Regions from separate parts of the Homo sapiens genome. Here region 1 is reported to be linked to region 2. The links are microRNA targets in miRTarBase. Many come from high-throughput screens and were not tested one by one. Region 2 holds a microRNA gene; the other region holds the end of a gene's coding sequence.
What was found. Region 2 holds the annotated microRNA hsa-miR-6814-3p (ACUCGCAUCCUUCCCUUGGCAG, at 2,701-2,722, shown strand). A microRNA usually pairs through its seed, bases 2 to 8, with sites in the 3' UTR of a target mRNA and lowers its output. Matches are read on the target gene's strand: a 7mer-m8 pairs with bases 2 to 8, a 7mer-A1 pairs with bases 2 to 7 and ends in A, and an 8mer does both.

Region 1 (4,385 bases), not on the chromosome of region 2:
TTGTCTCATTTAATCATCACAACCCCACAAGGTAGGTACGACGACTGCCATTTTACAGATGAGGAAACTGAGGCACAGTCCAAGCAGCTGAAATTTCAACTTGAGGGCCAAGGAAGTTTTTCCCAGACATGCAGTGGAGATGACCGGGAGGTGTGAGCTTCCAGGAGAACTGGCGCAGGCCCGGCGACACTAGTTTGGAGGCATGACGCTAGTAGTGAGGGTCTTGATAAGAGTTGAGCCCATCTCCTCTGAGCACCTGCTTTCTGCTGAGCCACAGACTCTGGCACGTTTTCAGGCCTGGGACTTGGTTTCTGCATTGCCAAAGTTCAAAGGAAACAGGATTTACAAGAAGTTAGGGCCAGTGGGGTGGGGCTCCAGAGTTAGCAGAGGGGCTGCTACTAAAGCCGTCTCATTTCTTGCAGGAAGCTGGAGCTGCCACTTATGCTGGGAACTGCTCAAAGAGAAAGCCTCAGCCTTTGGCTGCCAGGCCTAGGGCCCCAGGTCACAGAATGTGACTCGCTGCTGGAGATCCTAAAGCAGAGCCCAGTTCAAACCAGAACGCGCCCTCCTCCCACATATCCAGCCAGACCAACTGCAAGGAAAAGAAATAGTCCCAGAGGGGCAGGGACACATGGAACGAAGAGGGTGAGGCATCTCCTGACCTCCCCCGATATGTACGGAACTTCAGCCAGCACCTCCTTGTCTCTACCGGAAGGAAGTTGCACTTTGGGAGAACACCTCCGGCCCCAGCCCTGTGGAACCCCTCTCACTTTTACCCTAGCACCGAGGCCCTCTCATTGGTTCCCATTTTAAGGGAAGCCATTTCCTGACCACTCATCCATTACTTGTGTGTAGTGTGGTGTTTTTTTATCTATTGTGTTCCAAGAAATCTTGGCACAGCCCCCGTGCCCCCAGCTTAGGGTCTGCATCCTGAAATTCTCACCTGAGGAACAAAGGGCTGTGGAGAAGTTGTCGTTTATGGCAAGCCTCACTGGAAACTTCTAGACTTGGGGTCTTGAAACCCTTTCTTGTTCCTTGGTGTCTGTGGAGACAAAGAGTTGCCTTCTAGAACCCCAGCAGTGGCATCCACAGCCAGCCTGGTCTTGAGCCACTGCTTAAAGTTACTAGATGGGGGCGGGGAGGGAGGGAGACGCGCAGAGACATGGGAGGAAACATTGTGGAAATGGTGCCAAGGCCCCGCCATAGCCAGTCAGTACTTGTTATCCATCGGGAGAGACTTTGCAAGAGGCCAGGCTGGTTCCTTGACCTTCAGAGCTGGGGCATCCTTTAGGTGAGACCAGTCATGGCCTATGGACAGAGGAAGACGGTCAAGCCTCTGCCTCTCAGCCCACCTGGTTCTGGAGACCTGGTTCAGCTTCTCCTGGTGGGACTGAAGAACCAGGAAGGGGAGCGAAGGCTGCCCAATCATGTGTCCGAATGCTGGATACAGGGGGCTGCAGCTTTGAGAAACCTTCAGTATTGATGCGACGCTCTGAATTCCTTTTTCCAAGTAATTTCTTCCTTCCACGTAGTGTTTGTTCGCTATTGTCTACTGAGACCTGACTGGGAATTTTAGGATGGGGGAGAGAAGATTGTTATCTAAACAAATAATTAGGGTGACATGGTCATTATTCACGACCAGGGTGGCCACATTTTAGAACTCTCAGTGCGGGGGCTGCTCTTGTCTCCTAAGCTCCCCAAACATGCAGGACTCTTGTTTTCAAAAAAAAATGTGTCTAGAAGAAAGAGGTGGGGAGGCTGAGCTTCCGAGAACTCTGTGTGTTGGAAGATAGCCCCGAGGGCTGGAGCGGATTGGGCTGACTTTGAATCGCAGCAGCAGCACAATAACTGACATATTTCTGGAAAAATCATTTGCCCAAAGGGCAGGTCTCGGTGAGCGGAACCCTCGCGCATGCTTGGCTTCTCTGAAATCAGCTCCATCTCTGTGGTCTGGCTGCTCACAACAAAGGCCCAGGTTATTTTTAGTTCTTCAGCTCCTGAGGACGCTCCCGGAGACTCGGGCTAGTTGGGCCACCTCTGCCCGGCCGCAGTATTTGTGCTGTCCCTCGGCAGGAGTGCTCCTCTCTAGGCTAATTGCTCTTGGCCAGTGGACCCAGGGCAGCCTGGCATGAAACCAAGCAGTGTGGGTCTCCCCCACGCTTCAGCAGAGTGACCTGTGGCAAGCGATGGGGGTCACTCTCCTGCAGGGGCCTGTGGCCTCAGAGGGAATCACACACATACATAATGGTCTCATTTAAAGGGCCCCCGACCGGATGGAATTTTCATCTTCCTCATAAGTAATTTCCTTCCGCCTGCTGGTCGGTGAGCTTGTCTGAATCCTGAAGGCCCAGGGAGGGATAGGGAGGGTGACATTCCATCAGAGGGGCACATTTTTTCTCCTGACTACTCCAGCTCTCTCTCTTCCCACAAAACCCAAAGCAGGCTGTCTCCAAAGGCTAATAATTGGTTTTGAGCGTCATTTTAATTTAAATTTAGAAAAAAAAGTTCCCCAAATGTTCCCAAGTGCCACAATAGCTTAAAAGTTTAAAAAGCAAGTCCGAAACCCCAAACTGTGGCTCTACAACTTCACACGTCCTCTTCAGAGTATGTGCAAATTTGTTTTCCACAGAAGTGCAGGTGATAGGGCAGCCCTGTTCGATCTCAGCCCCATGTCTGCTCTGCCTACACAAGCTGAGCCTCAGCTGGGTCTCCCAGGCCAAGGCAGGGCACTGGAACTTGCCTGCACTGGTGAGGGTCAGGGCTCTGGAGTGACGTTAGGATGGCCCCGGAGTTCCCCTCTCAGCTTCATTACTCCCTGAAGAATGGGCCCAACCCATTCTTCATCTTTGGAGGCCTCAGTTTCCCCATCTGGAAAGCGGGGATAGCAAGCCAGCTTGTGGGCTGGCACTGTCAGGGTACTACAAGCAGACAAAAGTCTCCGTGGTCACATTTATCACCTCTGTGTTCAAAAGAGGACGGGGTTGGTAAACTTTAAATTGGTCTCTTTTTTTTGAACCCCAGAGAATGAGATAGAATCATAGGATGCATGTGAAGGATCAGAGTTTTTGTGTTGCCTCTGCCATGGAGTAGCTGTGTGACACTGGGCAAGTCACCTAACCTCCCTGAACCTCAATTGCCCACCTGGAAAGTGGAGATAGTAACACTTGCCCTGCCTATTCCAGAGTGACACTGGGACTCTTAAGCATCATGTTACATAAACAAGCACTGCAGAGCCATGCTTGTCTGGGAAGAACTCCGGATGTTTTCCATGTCCGCCTTCTTGTGTGCATTAGCCAATGTTAGACGTCTTCTTCAAATCTCCCTTGTGACCAAAGGGAGTTTATATTGCCAGGGCTGGGCTGCGACCAAGGAAATCATGACTTGCATGGGCTGTGGGGTGGAGGTGAGGGATGTACATGGGGTTGGGGACTTTAAAATGAAGGTACTCAGGATACTCCTTCTATAAGATTAATGCAGTTGAGAATGGAAAGGTGACTTTTAGAGAGGGCTATGATTTGTTTCAGTTCATGGGTAACGCTCACTTTCCGACCAACACTGCCACTTTCTAGCTGACTGACCTTGGGCCAATGACTTCAACTCTCTGAGCCTCATTTCACATGTCTGTAAGGTGGGGAAACATGGCCTATCCAGCATGGTCTTTGCAGGTATTCAAGGTGACATTGGTAAAGATCCTGGCCCGGGTCTGGCATGATGATGGTCCCCACTCCATGGTAGCTATTGTCATTTTCTGCAGAGGCCACCAAATGGAGATAATGATGTGGTTGTCTTCCGGCTCAAATGCTGGGAACAGCCAGGAGAACTTTGCTGGGCTTCACCCCTCTGTACTGTGGCTCCAGCAAACCAGAGAGGTGAGGCTGCCAGACCCAACCGGAAGTGGAAATCCTGTTTCCTGTAGGCATTTTTGAAACCCTGCTTTTTGGATCTGTAGCAAATCCAGTGCAGGCAACATTATGTGGAAATAGAAACAGGGCTCCTGCTAGGAGATTGACATTCTGGCTTTCCTTTGGAACCCCTCACTGACTCATCGCCCCTGAAGCAGGAGCCAGCAGGTCCCAAGGCTCCCCTGCTCCTGTCCCTGCCCCAGGGCGAGGTAGGAAGCCGGAAGCCTGGGCAGGCTGAGCCCAGCCGACTGGAACCAGGGAAGAGCCTGTGGGTGGGTGGAAGGGAGGGAAGGAGGCCAGATTCCTCCAGAACTGGGGAAGAGAACAGGTTTTGAAGTTGGGGGAGGGTTTGGGTTTCACAGTGATGGTTTCATGATACCCTGGAGGGTTGCACACTCCTGGTGCATTTTTGTATTCGTGCTTTGAATACAGCCCGCTTCCTTTCAACCCTCCGCTTAAAAAGTTTTGATGTTTTAAGGAAGA
Region 2 (4,385 bases):
GCTCACGCCCCGCATAGGGTGGCACCCTCTTTGGAAGTCCCTCAAGCTGCCTGAAGATTGTAGCCCAGTTGGCGAAGTTACTTGAGTCTGTCTGACATCTGAGCTATCAACATGCTGGGCTTCACTATAGAGAATTTTCTCTTTTTAAAAACAGGAGAAATATCTCGGTGTCATGGCTCTGTCTTTGGAAGGCTTCAGAACAGGTGTCTTCACGCCTGTTGCTGTGCATGAGTGCATTTGGCTTTGAGTCTCTGGCTGTCAGATGCTAACGTGCCTGGTTTCTCTTCCAGCTTTGCGATCGTCATCTGGGGCGTGCTCACACAGAAGAAGCCGTTTGCAGGTGAGTGGACCTGTCTTTGAGGTGTAATGTGCTTGTCTTTCCTGGAATAATGGGGGGACACCTTGTTGTCCTTTCTCTATCCTAAAACAGAGCCTGTGATCCACGCTGCCATAGGTGCTGCTCTGTGGTGTAATTTGCATGCAGGAAAAGACACAGATCTGAAGGGGCCTGTTCAATGGAATGTTTTTAGGTGCCAGCTAGTTTTTTTGTGGTAGTAAAATATATATAACATAAAATTGGTCATGTTAGCCATTTAAAGTGTATAATTCAGTGACATTAACTACACTGGCAGTGTTGAACAAGCGTTACCACTGTCTAATTCCAGAACATTCTCATCATGCTAGAAGGCAAAGCCCATGGCCATTCTGCAGTCCCTCGCCCTTCCTCCTGCTCAAGCCCCAGCAACCACTCACCTGCTTTCTGTCTCCAGGGGTTTGCCTGTGCTGGTATTTCCAGCTAATTCTTTTTTGTTTACTTTTTAAAAAAATAGTCATAAAATACACAGAACAAAACTTAGCATGTCAGCCGTGTGAAGCATACAGTTCAGGAGCATTACATGTACCCGCGTGCTTGCGCAGCCAACCTCCAGAGCTGCTCAGTGCCATGGAGTTGCTTGCAGGAGTGGCACCCCTGCCCAGCTTGAGAGCTGTGGTGTTTGCTTCCCCAGCCAGGCAGCCACCATTCCGAACACCATCCTCAAAGTTGTCACACCTTGACTTACTTATCATAAAAATCCAGGACTTTTTAGCTTTGTTGGACAGATTCCCTTTTCCTCTAAAGACATTTCTGGGCTACTCATGATATTTTGTGGTGTGACCGAAAATGTCTAAAAATGAAGATGAGAGTCAAGGCCTAGCCCCTTGTTAGTCGGGGCTCAGACTAGGAGCCGATGTATGGGAAAGTGCTGGGGTGAGAAGAGATCTTCCAGCATCGCAAGATCAAGTATCTTGGCAGCTTTAAAAGAATGTCAGTAGAAAGCACAGAACGCGTCCTGCCAGGCCTCTGCTGGCCGGTGTCCGTCTGTGTTGTCTGACCGCCTGTCGCCTTTCTTGCCTTCTGTACGTTCTCCCGCACAGTGGCCTACAGCCCGAAGGCTTGTGAAATGAGGCAGTGTCTGATAGATGTGACACCCGAAGCTAGGCGCAGGGGACAGGTCAAGGCTCAAGCCCTTGTGCTTTATTGCTGAATATGCCTAGTGTTCCCTTATTGGAACGCTAATCATATGGGAATTATTCGTGTCCTACTGTTCAAGGTCATCGCCAAGGTCTGATTTTTCAAATTCAAAAAATTGCAACCTCAGGCAAAAATGGGTAGGAGGGGGTTCAAGGTGCAGGAGAACAAGGCCTCTCCCCAGCTTTTCCAGTCTGTGCTTGGCAGCAGGAAACATTCCGGGCGTTTACTTCAGTTTGCTTCCATTTTATTTAGAGGAGCTGTTGGTTTTGAAGTCTGAATAATCATGGAAATAGCCTGCTAAACACTTAACGATATTTATTGCACAAGATTTAATGGGAAAGTGGAGCAAAACATTGTATGGAATCCTGGCAGCCGTGGGTGATTCTCGGCTGATTTTCCACACCTGCTGAGGCACATGGCCTCTCCAAAGAGCTGCCATTCCATGCGTGGGTGTGTTTGGATCTGGAGGGCAGAGAGGGCTGTTGGGAACAAGAACCTTGAGGGTTCCAGGCTAAGCAGAAAAAAGAACTTGGCCCACTGGATGTCACCCTGGGCCCTTCCCAGTCAGGGTAGAAGTTGTGGCAATAATAATAATAAGCTAGAGCCCATGCATGCTAGTGAAGGCAGTTGGAAAGGACAGGTGCGGCCCCACATGGTGAATTGAGGGGAAAGAGCCCTTCCACACATCCCAGCCCTGGTGCACCGGCAGGGGAGGCCAGCTGGGGACCTGAGCTTGGGATTGGAGTTGGAACTGAGGAAGACTTCTTCGCCATTGTAGAGAGAGTTGGGTCTCTGTGGATGTAGGACGCTGTGGCTCCTCCATGGTGCGTGAGCCTCATTCCCTTTGCTGGCTTGGGCTGTTGATGGAATGAGCCTCATAAGATATTGTTCTCCTTTGAACCTCATCTTCCTTTGGATGGGATGCCTAGAAAGATCTGCTCTGTGACCAAACACACTGACTCCTTCTGGTAGATCAGAACCCAGGGAAAGAGGTCGATTTCAAAACCAGGAAACTAGAGAGCATGGCGCACCATGAGGGTGAGGGTTACAGGAAGCTCTGCCTTTGAAACGGAGTGGGGGAGCCGTCTCCCTGGGGTGGTGTGGGGATGGCCCCATTGTGGCCCCCGGCGAGTGTGTCGTTTCCTCCCAAGGGTGAGATGCTGCCACCCAGCCCTGCAGAGCCCCTGACTCGCATCCTTCCCTTGGCAGATGAGAAGAACATCCTGCACATCATGGTGAAGGTGGTGAAGGGCCACCGCCCCGAGCTGCCGCCCGTGTGCAGAGCCCGGCCGCGCGCCTGCAGCCACCTGATACGCCTCATGCAGCGGTGCTGGCAGGGGGATCCGCGAGTTAGGCCCACCTTCCAAGGTGAGCACCCCGGGGTCTCCCCGCCACATTCTGTGGGTGTCACAGGAGACAGAGGTGACAGACAGGACAGGGTGAGGGACCAGGCCTGGGTGAGAAACAAGGCGTGTAACAGGTGGGCCGAAATGAGCCCTGCACAGATAGGTTGGACCCAGCACCTGCCTGCGGCCTCTGGTACTCACGGCTCGGCCACGGCAGCTGGAACTGAGTTGCCTCCAACCATCCGCCCCCTGCTCCCCACCAGGGTTGGGCTTGCCACCCAGAGGAGTCTGTATGGGAGCCTGAAGTTCAGGTGCAGCCATGCTCTTCCCGGGGACTTACCTGGCCGGTGGCCGGCGGCGTCGCCCTTCTCTTGAGGAGTTGACTTCCTGGGACAGATGTGTCTCTGGCATAGGAAAGTCACCCTGATGAGATGGAAACTGCTGCATTTAAAGCTTACGGCAGGAAACGGGCTGAATGGGGAGCTCATCCGCCAGGTGCTGGCAGCTCTGCTCCCTGTGACTGGCAGGTGGCGCTCCCCCGGGGAAGGCTTCCGCCTTGAGTCTGGTGAGGCCTTCAAATGATTACCGATGGGGGGGCCTGGGTTTGGCCAGCAAATTGTCCATGTAGGGCCCCTGGGCTTGCCTGGTGAGCTCAGGCTGGGCCGAGGCGTGTGAGAAATCCCCCAGCTCGTGGGGGCCCTGCGTTTATATGGAACGCGTGTGTACGCAGAAGTCATCATCCGAGTGACATGTCCCCTTTCTTCCCCACAAGAAATTACTTCTGAAACCGAGGACCTGTGTGAAAAGCCTGATGACGAAGTGAAAGAAACTGCTCATGATCTGGACGTGAAAAGCCCCCCGGAGCCCAGGAGCGAGGTAACGAGTCCTTCCCACAGGGGTCTTTTGTCTCCTCGGCTTCCAGGCAGGAGTTTCCAAACCACTCCTCTTTGCAGAGTCCCCCGCCGCCCGGACCACTCTCCCTCTCTTCTGAGCCCATCCCGCACCCAACTCCATTAGAAGTGTAGGTCCCATGGGGGCTCAGGTCCACCTGCCCGACTGCATCCCCGCCCCACCTCCTGTCTGATTCTGCGTGAGTGGCGGAAGGGCTTCCCTGACACTAAATAGCCACTCATTGGATGTGTGTGGACCACGGGGATCAGAAGGCCCAGCCCCGGCCGGGGAGGGAGAGCTGGTGTCTGAGTGTCTTTGCACCCCTGGCTCGGGGATCCAGTTCCTTTATAGCTGCCCATAAATGGTCTGCACTCTGATGAGTGCCACCCAGGTGATTTCAGATGTGATAAGAAGCTCCAAGTAGCAGGGCTGGCTAAATGCCTTTTCGGGTGATGAGGCTGGAGCAGACCTGTGAGGCCCAGCTGATAAGTGAGCTTTATAACGTGTTATCTGGTGTTGGGCGATTAATCCCAGGCTGTTGGTGTGAGCTCAGGAGATCAGGAAATATGTATATCAGGAATATGCGCCCACTGCCTCAACATAAAGTGCATGTGTGCCAGTGAGCCCGGGAGCAA

Region 1: the mRNA of DPF3 is a reported target of hsa-miR-6814-3p. The part of its 3' UTR that is shown has no 7-base or 8-base seed match.

The regions. Positions count from the first base shown.
Region 1 is chr14:72,615,405-72,619,789 of GRCh38, reverse strand. It overlaps DPF3 (double PHD fingers 3), which reads left to right. Exons shown (of 11, transcript NM_001280542.3): 11 at 423-4,385. The coding sequence ends at 493. It also overlaps a transcript of RGS6 not described here. Among named protein-coding and RNA genes, the nearest start is that of MIR7843, 100 kb to the right of the region's middle. RefSeq lists an enhancer at 1-1,114.
Region 2 is chr21:41,745,109-41,749,493 of GRCh38, reverse strand. It overlaps MIR6814 (microRNA 6814), which reads left to right and starts at 2,653; the gene lies at 2,653-2,722. It overlaps RIPK4 (receptor interacting serine/threonine kinase 4), which reads left to right. Exons shown (of 8, transcript NM_020639.3): 4 at 291-340; 5 at 2,723-2,881; 6 at 3,632-3,735.